Linked DNA regions of Homo sapiens: regions 1, 2, 3, 4, 5 and 6 are each reported to be linked to region 7. Evidence: microRNA targets listed by miRTarBase, many of them from high-throughput screens and not tested one by one. Region 7 holds a microRNA gene; each other region holds the end of a gene's coding sequence.

The links. The annotated mature microRNA hsa-miR-210-3p reads CUGUGCGUGUGACAGCGGCUGA and lies in region 7 at 1,674-1,695, opposite strand. An mRNA with a match to its seed (bases 2 to 7 or 8) in the 3' UTR can be bound and repressed. Matches are read on the target gene's strand: a 7mer-m8 pairs with bases 2 to 8, a 7mer-A1 pairs with bases 2 to 7 and ends in A, and an 8mer does both.
Region 1: the mRNA of COXFA4 is a reported target of hsa-miR-210-3p. Seed matches in the 3' UTR shown: 7mer-A1 at 614-620.
Region 2: the mRNA of ERP27 is a reported target of hsa-miR-210-3p. Seed matches in the 3' UTR shown: 7mer-m8 at 460-466.
Region 3: miRTarBase lists EFNA3 as a target of hsa-miR-210-3p. Seed matches in the 3' UTR shown: 7mer-m8 at 1,667-1,673.
Region 4: the mRNA of ATP11C is a reported target of hsa-miR-210-3p. The part of its 3' UTR that is shown has no 7-base or 8-base seed match.
Region 5: miRTarBase lists GIT2 as a target of hsa-miR-210-3p. Seed matches in the 3' UTR shown: 7mer-m8 at 1,097-1,103.
Region 6: the mRNA of PSAP is a reported target of hsa-miR-210-3p. Seed matches in the 3' UTR shown: 7mer-m8 at 597-603.

Annotation. Positions count from the first base shown.
Region 1 is chr7:10,931,080-10,934,192 of GRCh38, reverse strand. COXFA4 (cytochrome c oxidase associated subunit FA4) reads left to right here. Exons shown (of 4, transcript NM_002489.4): 4 at 501-2,250. The coding sequence ends at 557. Among named protein-coding and RNA genes, the nearest start is that of COXFA4, 7.5 kb to the left of the region's middle.
Region 2 is chr12:14,911,928-14,915,040 of GRCh38, reverse strand. It overlaps ERP27 (endoplasmic reticulum protein 27), which reads left to right. Exons shown (of 7, transcript NM_152321.4): 7 at 259-1,002. The coding sequence ends at 306. Among named protein-coding and RNA genes, the nearest start is that of ERP27, 25 kb to the left of the region's middle.
Region 3 is chr1:155,086,014-155,089,013 of GRCh38, reverse strand. EFNA3 (ephrin A3) reads right to left here. Exons shown (of 5, transcript NM_004952.5): 4 at 2,809-2,886; 5 at 1,476-2,601. The coding sequence ends at 2,471. It overlaps EFNA4-EFNA3 (EFNA4-EFNA3 readthrough), which reads right to left. Exons shown (of 5, transcript NM_001407761.1): 4 at 2,809-2,886; 5 at 1,476-2,601. The coding sequence ends at 2,471. Among named protein-coding and RNA genes, the nearest start is that of EFNA3, 8.7 kb to the right of the region's middle.
Region 4 is chrX:139,729,013-139,732,125 of GRCh38, reverse strand. ATP11C (ATPase phospholipid transporting 11C (ATP11C blood group)) reads left to right here. Exons shown (of 30, transcript NM_001353812.2): 29 at 371-475. The coding sequence ends at 472. Among named protein-coding and RNA genes, the nearest start is that of MCF2, 22 kb to the right of the region's middle.
Region 5 is chr12:109,930,227-109,933,339 of GRCh38, reverse strand. It overlaps GIT2 (GIT ArfGAP 2), which reads left to right. Exons shown (of 20, transcript NM_057169.5): 20 at 150-3,113. The coding sequence ends at 362. Among named protein-coding and RNA genes, the nearest start is that of TCHP, 32 kb to the right of the region's middle. RefSeq lists an enhancer at 1-712.
Region 6 is chr10:71,814,966-71,817,965 of GRCh38, reverse strand. It overlaps PSAP (prosaposin), which reads left to right. Exons shown (of 14, transcript NM_002778.4): 14 at 490-1,668. The coding sequence ends at 525. CDH23 (cadherin related 23) reads right to left here. Exons shown (of 70, transcript NM_022124.6): 70 at 2,019-3,000. The coding sequence ends at 2,688. Among named protein-coding and RNA genes, the nearest start is that of MIR7152, 26 kb to the right of the region's middle.
Region 7 is chr11:566,439-569,551 of GRCh38, forward strand. It overlaps MIR210 (microRNA 210), which reads right to left and starts at 1,760; the gene lies at 1,651-1,760. It overlaps MIR210HG (MIR210 host gene), which reads right to left and starts at 2,019. Exons shown (of 2, transcript NR_038262.1): 1 at 1,914-2,019; 2 at 1-1,415. RefSeq lists enhancers at 1-365, 2,951-3,113.

The DNA.
Region 1 (3,113 bases), not on the chromosome of region 7:
TATGTAAACCACAAAACAAAGCAGTACCTTATATTACTAGCCTCTTTTTGTTGCAGGATCTCTCCCTCTAAATTACAGCAGTTCATTCAGCAAGTAGGGAAGGTAATTCTTGTTAATCCTCTATTCTGTTGGCGATTCTTCCACGTACTTAGTAGAGTTAAGGCAAAAACTTACCGAATTGGAAGTATGTATCAGAAGGAATTCTTAATTATTCACTTTGAAATAAAAGAATTTTCCTTATAGGTTCCAAGTAGTAGACTGTACTATAATACTGCTCTTCTGAAATAAATTGAATATTTTTACCTTGCCAAAACTATCATTGAAGGCTGGAATTTTAGGTACAGTATTTTTCTGTGAATGATTTTATGTTGTTAAATATTCTTTTAAAAATTCATATCTGTAATTGTTACTGTAGAAAACCAAATACAAAGAATTCTAAAACCTTTGTACCGTCTCTGTGTATTTGAGATTACTTAAAATATCTTTTTTTCTGTTCCAAGTTCTACTCAGTGAATGTGGATTACAGCAAGCTGAAGAAGGAACGTCCAGATTTCTAAATGAAATGTTTCACTATAACGCTGCTTTAGAATGAAGGTCTTCCAGAAGCCACATCCGCACAATTTTCCACTTAACCAGGAAATATTTCTCCTCTAAATGCATGAAATCATGTTGGAGATCTCTATTGTAATCTCTATTGGAGATTACAATGATTAAATCAATAAATAACTGAAACTTGATATGTGTCACTTTTTTATGCTGAAAGTATGCTCTGAACTTTAGAGTATAGGAAATTAACTATTAGAATTTAAAGAATTTCTTGAATTTCTGTAGTTTGAAAATACGACTTTAAGCTGCTTTAGTAAAACACTTCCATTTTGTGTATAGACTGTTGGTAACTTCACTAGAGCATACATAACAACTGGAACTGGAAATTATACAAAAGTAAATTGGGAAGGATACTCCAGCATCTGACACTGGCAAAATGGAAACCTTTGAGTTTCTCTTACTGGCTGTTGAAGTGTGTGCAGTTTTTAACAATGGTTTTTACTTGGCATCTCTTTGTTGTGATTTTCAAGGTTATAAGTTGCTTTGGTCCTAGGATTGAAGTTGAAATCTGAGTTTATCAGTGCTAACCATGGTGCTAGTAGTCAAGAGATCTTGAGAATTTTGGCTGCTGAGTCTTGGTGCAGGGTGCAGGTTTTCTTTTCTTTTTTCTTTTTTTTTTTTTTGAGATAGTCTCTGTCACCCAGGCTGGAGTGCAGTGGTACAAACATGGATCACTGCAGCCTCTACCTCCCGGGCTTAAGTGATCCTCCTGCCTCAGCCCCTAAGTAGCCGGGACTACAGGTATGTGCCACCATGCCCAGTTAATTTTTGTAATTTTTTTTAGAGACAGGGTTTTGCCATGTTGCCCAGGCTGGTCTCAAACTCTTGAGCTCAAGCGATCCATTCTCCTCAGCCTCCCAGGGTGCTGGGATTACAGGCGTGAGCCATTGCGCTTAGCCATGGTGCAGGTTTTCAAAGGCCAGGAAGTATATTCATAATTTTAAGATGGGGAATATAGCAAGTTTTCACATAGGTGTGTGTAAGTCATCACATCATAGAAACTTGAGGAATTCAGTGACATTAATTTTGGATTTTCATACGTAAGTATACAATTAAATGTTTACAGGGTAGTAGAAGCACATTTTAAATGTCAGGAACTGAACTAAGTATTTGAATTACGTGGATTATCTCAAAAATTTTGAAATTGTTAAACGAGTTGAATTACTTGAATTCATTCTGTTAGTCAAATGGTGGATATTTACACCCATGTAGTTTTGAATTTAGAGTGTGTAGAGTGTTTTCAGTTACCAGACTCCATGCTTTTACCTCCTATGTGTCAGGTATAATTTGAACCTCTAAGAACAGGGTTTCTCAACCTTGCCACTGTTGACTATTTCTGAAAGACAGTTTGGTTTAGCAGACCATCCCATGCGCTTTAGCTTGTTTAGTAGCTAACTTGGGCTCTGCCACTACAGACAAAAAGCACTCTTTCCCTCCAATTCCCACAGGCTATGAGAAGAATGGAGACATTACCAAATGTCCATTGGTGGGCAAAATTGCTTCATTCCTACCTCTGTTGAGAATTACTCTAGATCCTTTGGCACAAATTACCTCAAAGTTTAAAATTGTGTAAACAAACAGTGTGTCATGTAATTGAAAAACATTAAGCAACTCCAAATAAATGCTACATTAAGAAATTAGTAATAACGTTTTCTAGAATTGAGGATCATTTTATGCATCCTTAAAAATTCTTTGAGTAGTATCTTTCTACTTTGTGTCTATCCTTGGACTTTGCAATGTAAGAATACATATGAAGTTTGGCATGAAATAGGATATGTCTTAATGAAGAAACTATTACTGCTATTTAAGAAACTTCAATGGCAATCTAAAGAAATTGTCATTTACAAATGCATCAGATACCAATGCTGCCACGAAAGATAACACACTTTTTTTCTTTGAATGTTTAGAATTGTGCTTGTGCTTTTTTTTTTTTTTTTTTTTTTTTTTTTGAGACTGAGTCTTGTTCTGTCACCCAGGCTGGAGTGCCGTGGCGTGATCTTGGCTCACTGCTCACTGCAACCTCTGCCTCCTGAGTTCAAGCTATTCTGCCTCAGCCTCCTGAATAGCTGGGATTACAGGTGCCCACCACAATGCCTGGCTAATTTTTGTATTTTTGGTAGACAGTTTCGCCATGTTGGCCAGGCTGGTCTCAAACTGCCGACCACAGGCGATCCGCCTGCCTTGGCCTCTCCAAGTGTTGGGATTACAGGCGAGAGTCACTACTCCTGGCCCTACTATGCTTCATTCAGAAAACAGACTGCTGCCTTTGTTTCTCATGTTAATGAAGTCTGCAGGCAAAGCTGCATTTAAATACAGATATCCTTGGGTAGTATTTACATGTATTTAAAAATTTGCAGTTTTCATAATTTATATATGCTTCCCAGTAGGTACTTGTCTTACTCTGTTGCTATAAATGAATACCTGAAACTGCGTAATTTATACATTAAAAAAAGGGTTATTTTGCTCGTGATTCTGTTGGCTGGAAGATTGGACATCTGGTGAAAGCC
Region 2 (3,113 bases), not on the chromosome of region 7:
TGAGGATATGGTGGCCGGAGTCAGGATGCTTGTTAGGATATATCGTGAGACTCAAACTAGAAAAGCATGTTTGGAAAGGCCTTGCATATTCAGAGGCTGAATTTTGGATTTCAGCATTTAGTGTAAAGCATTAATGGGCAACAAATCAAACTTCATATAACAGGGTTCATGAGATAAAAATTAAAGAAGGATTTAGGACTTCCAGGAGTAAACAGCTCAGTTTACTAATCTAAATATCATTGTTATAATGTTTTCCAGAAAGAAAATCGTGAATCAGAAGGAAAGACTCCAAAGGTGGAACTCTGACTTCTCCTTGGAACTACATATGGCCAAGTATCTACTTTATGCAAAGTAAAAAGGCACAACTCAAATCTCAGAGACACTAAACAACAGGATCACTAGGCCTGCCAACCACACACACACGCACGTGCACACACGCACGCACGCGTGCACACACACACGCACACACACACACACACACAGAGCTTCATTTCCTGTCTTAAAATCTCGTTTTCTCTTCTTCCTTCTTTTAAATTTCATATCCTCACTCCCTATCCAATTTCCTTCTTATCGTGCATTCATACTCTGTAAGCCCATCTGTAACACACCTAGATCAAGGCTTTAAGAGACTCACTGTGATGCCTCTATGAAAGAGAGGCATTCCTAGAGAAAGATTGTTCCAATTTGTCATTTAATATCAAGTTTGTATACTGCACATGACTTACACACAACATAGTTCCTGCTCTTTTAAGGTTACCTAAGGGTTGAAACTCTACCTTCTTTCATAAGCACATGTCCGTCTCTGACTCAGGATCAAAAACCAAAGGATGGTTTTAAACACCTTTGTGAAATTGTCTTTTTGCCAGAAGTTAAAGGCTGTCTCCAAGTCCCTGAACTCAGCAGAAATAGACCATGTGAAAACTCCATGCTTGGTTAGCATCTCCAACTCCCTATGTAAATCAACAACCTGCATAATAAATAAAAGGCAATCATGTTATAGGAGAAAGGCTGGCATCTCTTTGCAGGCCAAACCTTTTGTAAATACCCAGCTGCCCAACTAAGCAGCATGTTCCTCCCTCTGCAGTGCCCACTGTTTAGTGTCAGACCATAAGCCACTAACATGTTATTGTTCACTCTGTGGGTGGGATGGGTGGAAAATAGAGACCATCCTGCATGAGGATTGGAACAAATGTGGCAACTGAGCTAGGAAGCAAATTAGGTGAAAGGTTGGGGAGCAGATAGGAGAAGCAGGGCACTGGCAGTGGGACGGGCTGAGGCTGACTAAGCCTTGGATTATTGCAGGTAAGGTGTGTGATCCAGCTCCTGTGTGGTGAAAGGAGAGCTTGGCTGAGTGACTCTGGCCCATAGGCTGTTACTATCAACACACAGATGCTGCATTGTTCCCAGGAGGCCCTTGGCTCAGGAGGAAAGTGCCTAAGTGCTGAAGAGCTGAAAAACCACAGATGTACCTAAGGACTGGTCCAAGTGAGGAACAGGGAGTGAAAGGCTCAGTTGTTCTTTCTGTGGGGAAAACTCCACAGCCCCTGGGCGGGAGTCAGCTGCTGGCAACCACACTGTGAAAGCCCCAGTGTAAGGCGTGCCCTTCAGCAACGAGACCAAGGTATTCTGTGGAGGTCACACAGTCCAACCCAGGGCTGCAGAAAACCACCCAAACAGCTTCTCGCTTGAGGCTGAAAAATATTCCTAAGATAGGCACATCCCAGAAGGCTCCTTTGGATCCTGTAAACGAGAGCTCTTGACATTTACGGTCAGGAAATTCTTCCTGATATCCAGCTGAGGTCCTCTGGCCATGGAAGCTATTTCTTCTTGCCCACCCTTTGTGGAAATTCTTAACAGCTTCCAGATGCCCTCCTCAAACCATGCCTTTAACCACTTGCTGGCTGCACTGAAGCCCCTTTATCTAGCCATCTTTCCCCCATACTCACAATCTAACTCTCATCATTTGGTTTTTATCATTTGATTTACTTCATTGTTTTTCTCGCCTCATTCTTTCCCAACTTTTCCTCTTTCTTGCTTAAAATAGTTGGAACCCAAACTATAGTAGGACCCATGAGCTACATTTTGTTTGATATTGTGCTAATTTTTCAATTATTTTTCTTGAAGTGTTCCCCTCAAAAACAATAATCAAAATGGACCACATGGGTCTTAACATCTTTACAATGCATTTTTCTACTTGCTGACATTCAATAACAATTTTATTATATTATTTTATATACTTATTTGTATGTGTATAATATTGAAGTGAATCCTTCCTTCTCATCTTGTAGTTCTTCATAACTGCCAGTTACTTTTGCCGGTCTTCTTCATAGGCAGTCCTGTTCTTTGTAGCTCCGGGGGTCTCATAACCAAAGAATGGGACTTCAGAAAGAAGAAATTTGTAAAGATTCACCCATTTATTAAAGATCAGATCTTTAGAAGGGCACAGTGACTCATGCCTATAATCCCAGCACTTTGGGAGGCCAAGGCGGGCAGATCACAAGGTCAGGAGTTCAAGACCAGCCTGACCCACATGGCGAAACCCTGTCTCTCCTTAAAAAAAAAAAACAAGAAATACAAAAAAAAAAAAAAAAATTGGCCGGGCATGGTGGTGCAGGCTTGTAATCCCAGCTACTCAGCAGGCTGAGGCAGGAGAATCGATTAAACCTGGGAGGTGGAGGTTGCAGTGAGCCGAGATCCTGGATCCTGCCATTGCACTCCAGCCTGGGCAACAGAGAGAGACTCTGTCTCAAAAAAAAAAAAAAAAATCAGATCTTATAAACATCTGCAATTTTTTCTCTGTCTTGAGAATCTTTTGCCAGGTCTACATCCATTTCCCCAGGGCTATGTTATTGTTGAGATGTCTGGATACATCTCAGCTATTTTTCATTGTGGAATCATTCAATGGCCCTCACTGACAAGACTGCCATACTTTTTCTTTAGAGTACGAAGGAAGTGATAATATTATACAATATAAATTTGAAAAAGATGTTAACATATTTGGAAGACTATGATGGAAGGAGCGGGACTGAAGCAGGATTCAAAGGAATGACTGGAAAGTTTGGGTTTGAGTCTCACCTATTCTATGTATGTGCCTCTATGACACTGGAAAAATT
Region 3 (3,000 bases), not on the chromosome of region 7:
TTTCTGCTCATACATCAACACATACTAAAGTATGAGCTTATTTTGGGGTAGAGACTATATCTTGTGTCTCCAATACCCAGGATAGAGCCTGGCACTCGGCAGGTGCTCGATAAATGTGGATTGAATGCATGGACGATTGGATGGATAGGCCCACCTTTTCTGTCTTATCAGTCTGTAGGGAGTCTCAGACTGGTCTAGTGGCTGCCCCCAGTTCTTTCCCCACCTGCTCTCCCACCCCACACTCTTCCCTGTTCCGCTATTGGGAAACCCACCCACTCTGCAGAGTCTAGCTCAGATTCCATTTTCCATGTTTTATGGGTAGAGAGGAGCAGAAAACACAGTCCTTACCACCAAGGGCTCATTCTCACAAAGCAGCCGGCAAGAGCCACAGGGGCACACAGGATCTGGCCTGCTCACACAGTGCCAATTAGAGAGCCTGGGTGGGATGGAGTCCCATGGGTGCACAGCTTGGCAATAAGGTGTCCCCTCCCTGGGCCAGGCACTTGGCTCAGCAAGTGAAGTTGCAGGTACATTTCAGCCCCTATCCGCACTCCCTTATGCTGTGCTGGTCTGTAAACCCTGACCTTCTCTGGGGCCCCTGGGAAGCGGCCATTATCCTGTCTTTTGCCCTTCTGTCCTCTCTGCCCTCCCGAGCGATGCAGGGTGGTGTAGTTATGAGCAGCCCCAGCCCCAGCAAACTCCCAGCACCTTGGGCATAATGTTTGAAATGAGTAAAATTACAAAGGGTTATAAAGAAAGCTAATTATATTGAAAGAGTTATCAAAACATTTACATTTCTTGATATAGTAATATATATGCTTTCTTATTAACACATTAAAAATGAGGAAGGCCTAACAACTATGATCATTTCAAAGTACTGATGAGTGTAAATTGTATTTTGAGATATCTTCAACAACTATAATGCAGCCTGAAAACGTGTGATTTCTGGTTACAAAGTCACAGGTACTATTAATACTATTATGGCTTGCTGCCCAAGCACACAAGAGAATGTTAAATTTTAGTTATAGGCAAGTGAAAATAAAGATAGTTTTTTTTCTGTCTAGGTTCTCAAATCCCCTGAAATCCATAGACTCCAGTCAAGAACCTCAATTACAGCATGGAAGGGGAAGAAAAGGTGGAAACCATAATTGATGGAGCCTTTAACTCCCTGCGTCATTTAATCCCTACACCAACCCTAAGAGAGAGATACCACAACCAGTTTTTCTGGTGGGATACCTGAGAATCAGAGAGGTTGAGTGATTTGCCCAAAGTCAACCAGGCCCTGCCTGGAGGCCCCTCTTGCTCTTTCCAAGCAGCGCTGCCTTTGTAATGAAGATGAGCCCCAGAACAAGATTTGAACACCTCGTTGTGACTCTTTGGCCCCAGAATTCCCTCTCCTACTCAGGCCCTGTGCCCTGTGAGGTTTAACCAGTGTAACAGAAGGGTGATGGCCCCTTGAAATCACACACACTCAGTTATTTTTATCTCCAGTTTATTTTTTTTAGACTAAGAGCAGAGTATGAAAGTCACAGCCAAAGCACTTGAAAAAGGCCCAGGAGGATAGGTGGGACCACATAGGGTGAGCAGGGCAAGGTCCTGGGAGATGGTTCCCGGCTCAGGGCTGGAAGGGAGGGGGCGTTGTTGTTTTACGGTCTCCAAAAGTGTCTGTGCGTTGCATAGGTCCTGTCTTCACAGAAGACAAAAGAGGGGCCAGGGGGTCCCCCAGGTGTGGGGGGCCTAGCCTGGTGGGGAAGGGGTCTGAAGCTGAAGGGGAAGTCAAGAAAGGTCAGGGGGTTAAAGAGGGAAGGGACTCTGTCTGTCTGTACATTATATATAGAGATATAGAGTCTGTACATGCCTGCCTGGCACCCCAATGCCCACCCCTTGCCATCCTTGTCCACTGCCCGCCCCCCCAGGGGTGTCTACTTGTAAACTTGGTTTCAATCCAAACCACAATCCTGGAAGTGGGAGTGGGGGAGGAGGACGTGCTTATTGCTGTAAACAGGGGAAGGAAGCAGCAGGCAGTGCTGCCCCTTGCCCATCTAGTCCCCTCCCCATGTTCTGCCCCTGGAGGAGAGCAATGGGGGTGCCTCCCACGCTTCGATTTGCTCTCTCTGGGGGCATATGTCTCTCTGGGGGGACAAAGGGAGAGGGCACCAGGAGTCAGGGAAAGGTACCAGGGGCCAGGGAGTCCTGAGCACTGCCCTTTTTGGCCCCCAAGTTTGGTACCAAACATTACCAGAGCCACAAGGCCGCCCGGGACCCATGGCTGTCCCCGTGCTTGGTCCACTACAGTGCCCTACGTGGGGGGAAGGGGTAGAGGGGGCGGACACAGATGTATGGTGCAGGCCCCACTTCTAGCCATGGGAGGAGGGGTCTAGGCCCACTAGGCTTCCCTTGGAGAGGCCAAAGGCTCCCTGCTCCTTCCAAGCCCCGCCCCATCTCTCCCCCCCCAGGGGAGGGGGCAGAGCTAGGAGGCCAAGAACGTCATGAGGAAGAAGGCGATGCCCACGGCCAGGGGCAGGTGTTCCCGTTTGGGGCTGGTCCCGCTGATGCTCTTCTCAAGCTTGGGCACCTGAGGGTTCTCTCCCTCAAAGTCTTCTGTGGACAGAGGAACAGACAGACTGGTGAGGGCTGGGTTGCGCGCCAGGGCAGGGGCACGCGGCAGCAGCAATGGAGCCAGGGACGTGACCACCCACAGGGTAGGAAGTATCAGTGCCCCCAGGGAAGGCATGCGAGGTGAGCAGGCACCGGGGCGGGGGGCTGCGGTTCCAGCAGTGGCCACCAGAGGGCGCTGCGCAGACTCACCCAGCACGTTGATCTTCACATTGGGGCCCATGGTGAACTGGGGGAGAGTGGGGACCGGCTTCTCCCCGGAGTGCGATGCTGCGGGGTGGGGTGCGGGTGGGGAGAGAGGAGGGGAGAGTCAGGGCCAGGATTCCCTCCCCTTGCTACGGCTGGGGAGCAAGCCCCCCTCACCTGTGCCCTCCGCCCCCACCC
Region 4 (3,113 bases), not on the chromosome of region 7:
ATAATACGGCACCGGCACAACTCTCAGAGGTGTTCACCAAAAGGATGGTAAGGTTTACTAATCAAACCATATTGACTCATCTTACCATATTACTTACCAGTGCCATTCCAAAAACCCAAGTTTACTACATACTACTGTTGTCTGTTTACTTCTACCACAAAAACAATTCGAGTTGGAGACTTTCTTAGGCCTTTGAATGTATTCATTTGAATGTTATACATTTACTATATAGTGTAATCATTTGTACTTTTGGCCAGAGGAGTAGTCTATAGGAAATGATTTTTTTCTTTTACCTTTTTTTAAATATATAATCACCAGGTAGGTTAACCAATTTTCAAATGCTTTAAGTATCTTTGCCTCACTATTACAGAGAAATCTGAGCTGTAGAAGGGCATCTGACTCATTATCCGCCAGACCTTCAGTCAGACCTCTTCTTTTACGAACATTCTCAGACGAATCTAATGTATTGTAACAGGTACCTAGTGTTAAACAAATGGGCTGGCTTTAAAAAATCGGATTAACAGCATTATAAAGAAAAAATGAAAATATCACTCTCTAAATTTTCTCTGCTGTTGGTGTGGTGAACTTTACAATATTCTTTGCAAAAATATAAAGATGCATTACTTGGAATATGGGGAAATATGCATTTAAAATATTAAACATTAAAATATGATAAGCCCCCCAAATAAAATGTTAAACATTTTTCAGAGCCAAATGTTGATACAGCATATTTAATTTGTAAGGGGCAAGTTGTCATGGCAAGGCCACCATGTGAAAATGTTTGTTAATATTGATCAGGAAATATAACTTTGATTTATAAAGATCATTTGGAAAACTAAAAGTAAATATTCCAAAATTGCATCTGTATAATATCAAGCCAATTTAGCATTGCATGTTCTCTTGGGAATTATGTGAAAATAACTAAATGTGTTTGTACCTTCATGTGCTGTGTCTGTGTGTTTGCAGGTACTGTATACACTTATGTCCTTGTAAATGTCTGATCTCCAAATATATATCAATGAACCAGTCTAATCATAACTTTTTTAATGTCAAGTTTTATTCAAGCTAAATGTTTCAACTTTCAGAGGTAAAATATTTCATAGCCATTCAGGGGGATGCTTGCCTAATGATATAAAATGCTTTATAATTAATGTTTCCAAAAATGATTAAATTCACTTTATAATGTTTCATTTACCCCCAAAAATATTTGGGAGGAATTGATACGCCGTGGGAGGGCCCCTTGAACTCAGAATGACTCCTTTATGTATAGTCTGTATTTCCTTCAGTGGGGGCCTTTAACAACTCAGACCTCTGGAGGTCTTTTATCCATCCATAGGAATTTAGAGTAATTAATGAACAAGGCTTCCAAGCTTGTCAGCTTGGAAACAACTCTACACAGCTTAAAGCAGGGCCATCTTTCATGCACACATAAAAATTAATGATCATCATGAATACAATTGTGGGTTAGTTCACTTTGAAGCTAATAATTGCGAGTCCACCTTATAGGCCCATTTTTTTCAACAGCTGTCAACTCTGCCACCCTCTAGCAAAGAATACAAGTTAAATTAATGGATTGACTCCATTGGTTCTTCTGTCTTCCTGGAGTTCATCGCAGTCTACATCTGCACTGTTATTTTAGAAGCAGACTCATTTTGCCACAGTTAGCATCTTTTTACCCATTTTTGAACAACTTACCTGAGTATGTTTTCCCTTAGTAATGAATCTGCTTCACAAGTAACCTTCAAGGTCTTTGACCCCTTTGTCCCAGATTGCCTCGTTCTAAGCTGTGTGATGCATTTTAGCTATATTGTTTCTGGCTAATTTTGTATCCCCCTGGATTGCTCTCTTTAGCTTGGTCTGTGGTTTGGGGGACTGGGCTGGATAGAAGACACTGCTGTTGCTTTTGGCCTCTCCAGGGCCTTATCTCCTACAATGTCTAACATAGAACTGAGGAAGTATTTTTTAAAAACAATTGTCTTATTTTTAATGTAGTTATTTCTTCCAGGAATAGATTTTCATGTGGCATTATTTCTCCTCCAAAGACAATAATTAGCAGCTAGTTTAGGCATCTAGTTTGTTCCTTGGTTGGTAAGGAAACTACCTAACTCCTCAATGTGAGTTACATTCTCAGTATGAATGGCAACCTTATTTTGGTTAGAGTCACCATGACCCTGCAGAGCTACCTGAAAACCTACTAGTGGTTCTGGAGAATGTGGAACATAAATAGAAATGGAAGGTATTCTAATGAGCTTCTAGTCCAGCCATGGCAAAGGAGGTGTCCCAGAATGGGAAGAAAATAGCATACTACTTAAGACCTTCCACTACTCAGGTTCAAAAAGATTGAGTTTTAGAGTGGAGAATCAGGCTCCCTGTTTTGACATATGACTTCCATTTCTTAACATACTTGACTTACACTTAATGATCAGTTTGTCTGTCATGCACCATCCTGATCATAGCATTTGATGATGTTTAGAGGACAGAGAAGAATCTACAGATTTGATAGGGAAATATCCGTGGTTTCTCTTCCAAAAAGATGAAGCATAAGAAAAAACAGAAGAATCAATCGACTCATAGATACATGATCTACCAAAAGGAAAATTAACTTCCATATTGTAGGGGGGAAATATGCTTCTTTCAGTAAAAAGGAAGAATATTTTCACAATAATCTTCCAAAGCTGAATATATCTTCAGACTTCCTCTGTCAAAATTAACACATCAAGAAAAACAGCAATCTAATCATTCATCAAACATTTCCTGAGTATCTGCTGTGTGCCAGACACTATTACTAGCTGCTGGAGATAGAAGGTAAATAAAATGTTCCTGTTTTCAAGGACCTCCCAGCCTAGAGGAGAAGGGATCACAGCAAGCTAAACCTCTGCTATGGTAAATAATCCCAGAGGTAGAAAGTATTAGGAGAACCCTGGAACAATCCAAAAGCAAAAAGCAAGCCTGAATCTATTCAGCTGACAAATGAAGAAAGGATTAAAATCTGGTTATAGTGTCACTCTTTTTTTCCCCTGCATGTGAATAAAACTTGGCACTTTGTTAAGACAGTTGCTTTACTCTCATAACAAAATTTACTACTTATTTCTGAAAATGCTTAACAGATGGTT
Region 5 (3,113 bases), not on the chromosome of region 7:
AGTGTGTGAAGCACCCCTTTGAGAAAGGGCAGGACCAAACCGCCTTTCACTCTGGGGAGCAGCTTGGTTTGCTTTAGAAGAATGTTTGTCCCCTGCTTTTGGATGTCTGCCCTGCAGTTCAGGGTAAACGGCTGTCTTTTTCCTTTTAGAAACCCAAGTCTGATATGGTGAGGACTTCCCTTCGTTTACTGACGTCCAGTGCCTACCGACTGCAGTCAGAGTGCAAGAAGACCCTCCCAGGGGACCCCGGCTCACCCACAGACGTTCAGCTGGTCACGCAGCAGGTCATCCAGTGTGCGTACGACATCGCCAAGGCTGCCAAGCAGCTGGTTACCATCACCACCAAAGAGAACAACAACTGACAAGGGCAGGGCACCGCCTCCTCTGTTTTCTAGGCTTTATAAAGTCCAATTTCAAATTCAGACGCAGAACTCTTCAGATTTCTACAAAAAGAAACATTTAATGACGGTTTAAAACTTTTTAAAAGAAAACTCAGTATTATTTTTGCATGTTTTCTAACCAATTTTCAACTATTTAACCCACTTGCCTTATTTTGTGCCTATTTGCTGGTTTAGTTTCTGATGTTCGGTTGTGTTGTCAACAACTGTTGAGTTGATCACATACATCCAAAAGTATAGTTTCATTGTCTAAAGTTTGTGAAAACTTTTCCATCCCTTAAAACTCCCTGCCTATGGCTGAAACTATAAATGAAATTTTTCATAAAACATTTTCTTGAGAGAGTTCAGTTAAAAAAGAAAAAATCAGCGTCATTTGTTCCCTGCCAAGCATCGTGCAATAAGTGAATTTCCTGGCCTACTTCATAATCTCTAAGTTTGGGGTATCTCCAAGCATGTATGTAGAGAAAGGACTTTGCCGCTTTTTAAAACTAGTGTCACAGTCTCTCTTGGGAGGAAACAATGAATTGGTTCATTTCTTCTCAGTGTTTTACCCTGTTACATGTTCTGTTATTTAATGTTGTTATCTCAAGCTCCTATCTCTTGATGTTTTCTTGTCATCTTGAAGGCTCCATGGAATGAGATAAAGCATTGACCCACCACAGGACATCTCATGAAGCCATGTTCAGGGTAGGAGCTCCACGCACATCACCACCCATTGTCAGGTGCTCTCCCTCACCCCTGTAAGCCAGACAGTTTGTTCAAAACCTGCAGCAAAGAGAAGCATCAGTCTAACAAGCCAGAACTCATTTTGTGCCACCCATTTAGGTATCACTACCATGAACTATAGGGAAAAGAAATCACCTACTCCCTGACACTGTGTTGTACCCTTCATCCAAAAGTCAGCTTGCTTCTCTGACCACTTACAGCTTTCTCACATGAGTTGCTTCACATTTTTCATCATCTTTAAGGACTTCTTATAAGGAAAGATGTATCGTATCGCAGTCATCTGAGTTAGTTTCTCCTCCATCACCTCATGAGTACTTAAAAATTAGACATCAACTTTCAAGAGTTCCTTAGAGAGTGTGCTCTAGCTGGCTGCCTGCTACCCCAAAGCTCTGAAAGAGTAAGGTTGAAGTGCTGGAACATGCTCAGATTGTTTTTTAGTTACTCAAAAGCCCCTTCTTGTTCTGAATGTGAAAGCTCTTCCCGTTCCTGCTTACTGCAGCCATTCTGTGTGTGTGGTTCAGACCCTGGCCTAGGGCCGGTGATGTGGATGAGTGAAGGGAGCCAGGTACACGGCAGCAGGGCAGAGGAGACTATGGGGAGCCCACCGCCTACACAGTAGGGGCAGTAGCCCCCAGCTCCACGCCTGTTGCCATGTGGAAAAGTGGGCCTAGGGTGGCCACAGCTTTGATTTTTCAAGAGACAAGAAACCTAGATGTTTTTTGGTGCCATCTCTCCATTTATAAATGTTGGCAACCAATTTGAACACTTTCAGAGACCATGTGCAGGTGAGCTGTGTCCTCTAGGCTGCCAGCTCACAGCCCCCACCCCAGGGCCCTGTAAGCTGTGCAGTGTGAGGGCCTGGCTTCCCCGGACACACCTGGAGCAGCCTCTGAGTCTTACCCGTAATGGAGCCGGCCAACCCTGTGTGTTATGTTGCTGTCGCTCCTGTTTTTAACCATATGTTCTGTCCCATAGCAGTCATTCACACATGTGAAGAAGACACAAGAATCAAAGTACAAGTTGCCTCAATACATGCTAATAACTAAGCTTCTATTTTCACAGGACTGATCGATGCACACCTTTATAGCTTGACCATATGCTGTCATGAAAGTAGCACCCCGACGGTGCTTGCTTTACTAAGTCACCGTGTGTGGATGCTTTTGTCGCATTTTGCTTCACTGTGAGTAGCATGGGAAAAGGGTCCACGTCTCCAAAAGACTCTTCCACTTGTTTGTCCCACAGCCCTAAGTGCCACATTGCTGTTGGATGCTCCCGGGATGCCTTCTAGAAGGGGGCCTCCCACCTTAAGTTCAGGCGCCATCTGATAGCCTTTTCTGCAGGCTTCATGTCCTTAGCTGACCCTCCTTTATCTTGCAAACCCCTGCCCCTGCTGTCCCAGGGAGGACGGGCTTCTGTAGAGGCTTCTGGGAAATGAGCTGTCTGCAGGAGGTGAAGCAGTGTTTTCCTTGGAATGTTTGAGGACCTGCAATAGAAGATGTTGCCTTTATGGCCCTAGAGAAAGTCAAGGAACATGGGGACCAACAAAGCATTTCCAGTTGTAAGAATATGTCAGAAGAGTGCTCGGTTAGCCCACGGTGCCAAAACTCCAAACAAGTTCCCCGGTGGAATGACGTGGCCATTGGAGGGCTGCAGGTCGTCCTCTCTGTATGTGCCCCGCGCATTTCCTTGGCCTCATCTGAGATCTGGTGTCAGAGTTCTCTGCTCCTGTTGGCAAATCGCACCTTATCTGAACATTTGTTCCAGCCACCTTTTGCACATGGATTCCGTACCTTGCACTAGCAATGTCTACCTTCAGTAACGTCGTTCTTTTTCACCCTGTATTCTCAATGATCCCTTCCTCCCCATATGCCACCCTTCCCCCAAAGCTGATAGGGCAGAGGTGCACTTTATGAAACTGGCACTTGACTGAACAGAAGGAAACAGCTGTACCTCTAAGCTCCTTTCACAGAAATCGTCATCTGCCTTGGA
Region 6 (3,000 bases), not on the chromosome of region 7:
CTGGCCATGTCCAGCTCTTTCCTCCAGCTAGGCTCCAGCCCATCTCCACCGCCAGCCCCACCCCACAGCTGGTTCTGCTGCTGTCCTGGGGAAATGTGGGCCTGCTTCTCAAGGCCCGAGCTGGTGTGTAGCCTAACTCAGGCAAGGAGGTTCTGCCTGGGAGTTAGTGTGCAGGCTGCTAGCAGGACGCTGGGTGCCGGGTGCAGGTAGATGAAGGGTCCTGAGCCCTGCCTGCGTGGGTACTCATCTGCAAACTGCTGCAGGCATCTGCTGCTCTGGACTCGTGCCTTAGAAGTTCCCAAAACTCTGATGGCCACGTGTTCCCTGTTTTTAAGTGAGATCCTGTCCTGGGTCTTCAGCATCTGGTGCCATCCAGCTGACCTAGGACAAGAGAACAGGTCCTGTTTTGGGGTGATATCTGATACATTGATGGGCCGGGAACGGAGTTTTTCATCCGAAGACTAAACTCAGCTTCCTCTCTCCTACCAGGCTGTCGAGCATTGCAAACGCCATGTGTGGAACTAGGAGGAGGAATATTCCATCTTGGCAGAAACCACAGCATTGGTTTTTTTCTACTTGTGTGTCTGGGGGAATGAACGCACAGATCTGTTTGACTTTGTTATAAAAATAGGGCTCCCCCACCTCCCCCATTTCTGTGTCCTTTATTGTAGCATTGCTGTCTGCAAGGGAGCCCCTAGCCCCTGGCAGACATAGCTGCTTCAGTGCCCCTTTTCTCTCTGCTAGATGGATGTTGATGCACTGGAGGTCTTTTAGCCTGCCCTTGCATGGCGCCTGCTGGAGGAGGAGAGAGCTCTGCTGGCATGAGCCACAGTTTCTTGACTGGAGGCCATCAACCCTCTTGGTTGAGGCCTTGTTCTGAGCCCTGACATGTGCTTGGGCACTGGTGGGCCTGGGCTTCTGAGGTGGCCTCCTGCCCTGATCAGGGACCCTCCCCGCTTTCCTGGGCCTCTCAGTTGAACAAAGCAGCAAAACAAAGGCAGTTTTATATGAAAGATTAGAAGCCTGGAATAATCAGGCTTTTTAAATGATGTAATTCCCACTGTAATAGCATAGGGATTTTGGAAGCAGCTGCTGGTGGCTTGGGACATCAGTGGGGCCAAGGGTTCTCTGTCCCTGGTTCAACTGTGATTTGGCTTTCCCGTGTCTTTCCTGGTGATGCCTTGTTTGGGGTTCTGTGGGTTTGGGTGGGAAGAGGGCCATCTGCCTGAATGTAACCTGCTAGCTCTCCGAAGGCCCTGCGGGCCTGGCTTGTGTGAGCGTGTGGACAGTGGTGGCCGCGCTGTGCCTGCTCGTGTTGCCTACATGTCCCTGGCTGTTGAGGCGCTGCTTCAGCCTGCACCCCTCCCTTGTCTCATAGATGCTCCTTTTGACCTTTTCAAATAAATATGGATGGCGAGCTCCTAGGCCTCTGGCTTCCTGGTAGAGGGCGGCATGCCGAAGGGTCTGCTGGGTGTGGATTGGATGCTGGGGTGTGGGGGTTGGAAGCTGTCTGTGGCCCACTTGGGCACCCACGCTTCTGTCCACTTCTGGTTGCCAGGAGACAGCAAGCAAAGCCAGCAGGACATGAAGTTGCTATTAAATGGACTTCGTGATTTTTGTTTTGCACTAAAGTTTCTGTGATTTAACAATAAAATTCTGTTAGCCAGATCTGGGCCTAATGTTTCTGTGACCCTTCAGCTGGAAGAGTTTGTTCCTCTCTGATGAGCTCTGAGCCCATGACACCTTTGGGGCCCAGCACTCCCATGACCCATCTTGGCCAGAGAATGAAAGCAAAGTGGATAAAGGAAGATCCCACCTCATCCTCCCCAAGACTCAGGGCCAGCAGTAGGTCAGGCGCACCTGAAGGTCGGCTCTGCTCTTCACCTGCCCCTGTCCCTGCTCCCTAGAGGCCAGAGTCAGAGCACGTTGCCAGTTCCTTGAGAGTTGCCTTGATTTTTAAACAAACCATTCCAGAAACTTGTAGTGAGTACCAGTTAAACAAAACCAAGGGGAAACTATTGAGGGAATAACTTAATTTAAAAAAGGAACACACACAAACACTCCACATTCAAAACCGGAGGGAACATCAGTCACTTCTGTTTATAAGCTGGGCACACATTTGGGAAGCCAGTGAAATGGAGAGAATGCTTGTTCATTGACATTGACTTTCTTGTCCACGTGGGGATGCCACCTCCACCTGGACGTCCAGCAGAGAGGGATGTGGCGGAAATGTAGCGAGACTTGGACTGGAGTCGGGTGTCCGGCCAGCAGGGGATGTCCGCGCTGGGCCTCCCTTGCGCCTGCTTAGCCGGAGGGGATGGTGCTTGCGGGGTGGAGCTGGGAGGGAGGAGGGCCTGTTTGGCCTCTTTCAGCTCAGCCTGAGCCAAGCTGGTCCCCAGACTCTTGGGCCCCAGTGACCCTCCTTACCTTGTCCTTAGATGCTTAACATTTTTGTTTGGTTTTCTTATAAAAATAACAGATCTTATGAAGGTAGAGGTCAGATGCTGAATGAGCGTCTGGCAAAAGTGGGATCTGAGCAGCTGATGCGGGCTGCCAGGGCCAAGCCAAGGTTGTCCCCAAGGCCTGGCCTTGGAGGGTCCCCCCCGACCGGCCCTGTCCCTGCCCTTGCTCCCTGGGAGGGGACGGTGGATGGGTGCTGCTCACACCCACAAGGCTTCCCTGTCTAGTCACAGCTCTGTGATCTCCAGGGGGGTCTCCATGATCACGTCGCGAAGTTTGTGCAGGGGTGTGGATTTGGCGGATTCTGTGCGGGCGTTGCGCTCGAAGGCAGTGGCCTCGGCAGCGGTCAGCGTCTCCAGCGAGCGGCCCAGGCCCTTCTGGTCTTCCTCGGGCAGGCTGTTGAGGTCGGTGGCCAGCAGCGTGCCCGTGCTGCCGTGCACCACATGGATCCCATCGGGCCCCTTGAGCTCCACTGGTGGCTTGTGGCGGAAGCGCAGGCTACCCTGCCCTGGGCTGTGGTCTCCTGGCTCCTCGTCCAGC
Region 7 (3,113 bases):
GCCACGCCGTCCCTGTGTGTGTTTCTGAGGAACTCCTGTTCACTCTGAGGCCACTGCCTAGGTGCCCGTCCCTGGTCTGCTGCTGCTGGCTCTGATGAAGCTAACCAGCCTTCTTCCCCACCAAGAGGGTGTCCCAGCAGCAGCTATGGCTATGTTCCGGCGGGGGGAAGGCGGGGAGCCTTCCTCCTCACTGGCTGTTTCATTTTTTTATTTTTTTGAGGCAGAGTCTCTCGTCACCCAGGCTGGAGTGCAGCGGCGTAATCTCGTCTCGCTGCAACCTCCACCTCCCAGGTTCAAGCGATTCTCTTGCCTCAGCCTTCCAAGTAGCTGGGATTACAGGTGCCCACCACCATGCCTAGCTAATTTTTGTATTTTTAGTAGAGACGAGGTTTCACCATGTTGCCCAGGCTGGTCTTGAACTCCTGATCTCAAGTGAGCGATCACCCGCGTCTGCCTCCTGAAGTGTTGGGATTACGGGTGTGAGCCACCACACCCGGCCTCTCACTGGCTGTTTCAGGTGAACCAAATCCCATGGCCCCAAAAAGTGGCCAGAGTGCTTCAGATCACTCAGCAAACCTTTGAGTTGCTGAAAAGTTTACTTTTGAGTTTTAAACTGTACTTTGAAAACTATATTGTGAACTGTGTTGACATGAGGAAAGGCTGGGCTCCCTGAAAACATCCAGTTCCACAGCAGGGCGGGCCCAAGCCCAGCCAATCCCCAGGCAATGCAGGGCAGGGATCCCACCTGGTGTAAGTACGGGCAGAGGGCAGAGCCAGGCTGTATCGAGGGGCGGCGCTGGGACCCTCCTCGCCCAGAGTTCCTACTCATCCCCAGCACAGAAGTGCTCTGTAGGGCCAGCTGAGGACACCCCGGTTCACTGAGGGTGGCCCACAGTAAGTCGCCGTCTGGCAGTAAGTTAGCTCTGCAGGTGTGGACCCCAAGACCACACACAGCCTTTCTCAGGTGCAGGTCCTGCCAAGCCTCACTTCGCAGTGGTGACAGGCAACCCCGTCAGGGCAGGGAGCTTCCAAAGGCCAGTCCGAGTCCATGCCAGGCGTCCACTAAATCTGCCTCTCCCTCTCCAGCGAGCAGGTGCAGCCCTCAACTCCTGCAGGCCTGGGGAGCGGAGACAGGGCCTGTAGGCTCGGACACGACCCGGTCCTGATTTTAACAGTAGACTTGAGAAGGCAGGCTCAGCAGACAGGCTGCTGGAGGATCCACCCGCTGTCTCCCGCAGCGGCCCCACTGAAGCGGCAGAAACACACAGAAGCACCAAATCTGTCACTCTCTTCCCGTAGGAAGTCCCCAGAGGTGGCCCTCCGGAGGATGGTCCTGTTGGCTGAAGATATGACCACACCTGTGCCTGCCCAGGGCCACCTTCAGCTTGGCAACAGGAACTCCGCACACTGGTACCCTGGACACACAAGGAAAAGAAAGTTCCCTCCAAGAGGGTATCTGGCCCAGCCTCAGCCCCACCAAGCGGAGGGCAGCAAAGCCCCCGAATGATTTCGCTTACCCCCACCCGCCGTCCCTGCTGGCCAGACAGGCACACCCCGTCCATAGGGCACCCCCTCCCCACGGTATCCAGCTGCCCTCGCGTCCCCGTGTGGCCGCTCGCCTGCCCGCCAGACCCGGACACGGGGCCAGGAGGGTCGCGCTGCCCAGGCACAGATCAGCCGCTGTCACACGCACAGTGGGTCTGGGGCAGCGCAGTGTGCGGTGGGCAGGGGCTGCCCTGCGCCTGGAGGCACTGCCGGGTGGGCGGGCGGAGGGATTGACCCCACCCCCGTCCCCTCCAACTTGGGCGTCCGAGCCCCGCCGCGCCTGCCCAGCCCGACCCCCCGCAGCCCCCGCGGGAGGGCGGCCTCTGAGGGGCGCCCCGCCCGCCAACCTGGGATCCCTCGCGCGTCACCTGCGACCCCGGCGCGGGGCCGTCGCCGGCTCTCGGCCCAACTTCAGCTGCGGCCGCTGGCACCCTCTCGCCCCCCGGCCCGACCCGACCGGCCCCGGGCCCCGCGGCTCCACGCCCAGCCCCGTATGCAAATGACCTGGTCCCTCAGCCAATGGCCGGCCTAGCCGGGCCCGCCCTACCGCAACGCAGCCAGTGGGCGCGAGGGGGGTTCGCGACGCCCCGCCCACCGCCGCGCGGCCCTTCGCGGGCGAGGCCGGCGCGTTCTTTTCTGCACGTCTGCCCGGGGAGGGGCGGCACCTGCCGGGCGGGGCCTGCGGGGCGCCAGCTGCGAGGGCGCGGCGGGGCCAGGGCGCGTCCCCCGGCCGGGCGGATGGTACGGCCCGAGGTGGTCCTCCTCCCGCCGCGCGGTGGTATGGCCCGGGCTCGCGGGGCTTCCGGGCTGGGCGTGGGGCGCAGCCTGGCGACGGGTCCTCCGCCCGCGGGTGTGCGTGGGGCGGCAGGGCCGGCCGGGAGCTGCCCCTCTTCCCGCGGCGCGGTGGTACGACCCGGCCGCCTCCGTGCCCCGCACCCGCGTCCCGCGGGCCCGCCCCCCCCAACCCGCTGGGCGCCCGGCGCACGTATCCCGGGCCGTGACCCGGGTGGGGCCTGCGCGGGCCCGGACACGGCGTCCTCGGGACGCACGCACCACCCCCCGGGCGGCTTGGGGTCCCCAAAGGACGCCCGGGTCCGTCCTGCTGGCGAAGAGGGGGCTCTGGCTCTGCCTGGTTTGCCTGGCGACCCCCACGGGGCGCCCTTGGGGGCTCTGGGTCCCTCCTGCGCGCTCTGTCTCCGCGGAAGCCTCTGGAGCCTGGAGGGGGTGCCTCAAGGGCTCAGGGGTCTTCGCAGCCCTGTGCCGGTCTTTGAGGGGACGAGGCGAGAGAATCCTGTCTGTGCGCTGAAAACGTGTAAAATCAAAGGAGCCTTGACGGTTTGACCTTCGTTAGGACTCGCAGGGCCAGCTTCAGACGTGGAAGTATCGGACTCCGGGGTGGGGCTCCAAAGTGGCAGCCAAAGGAGATTTGGCCGCCGGCCCCCCTTGGCACTGTCACCCTGGTCCTCGGCCCCGGGCCGTCTCCCCTCAGCTCCCTGGCCCTAAACTCACCGCCCTGCTCTTTGTCCTCCCCTGGCCCCATGACCTCCCTGCCTCGGCATCCGCGCAGG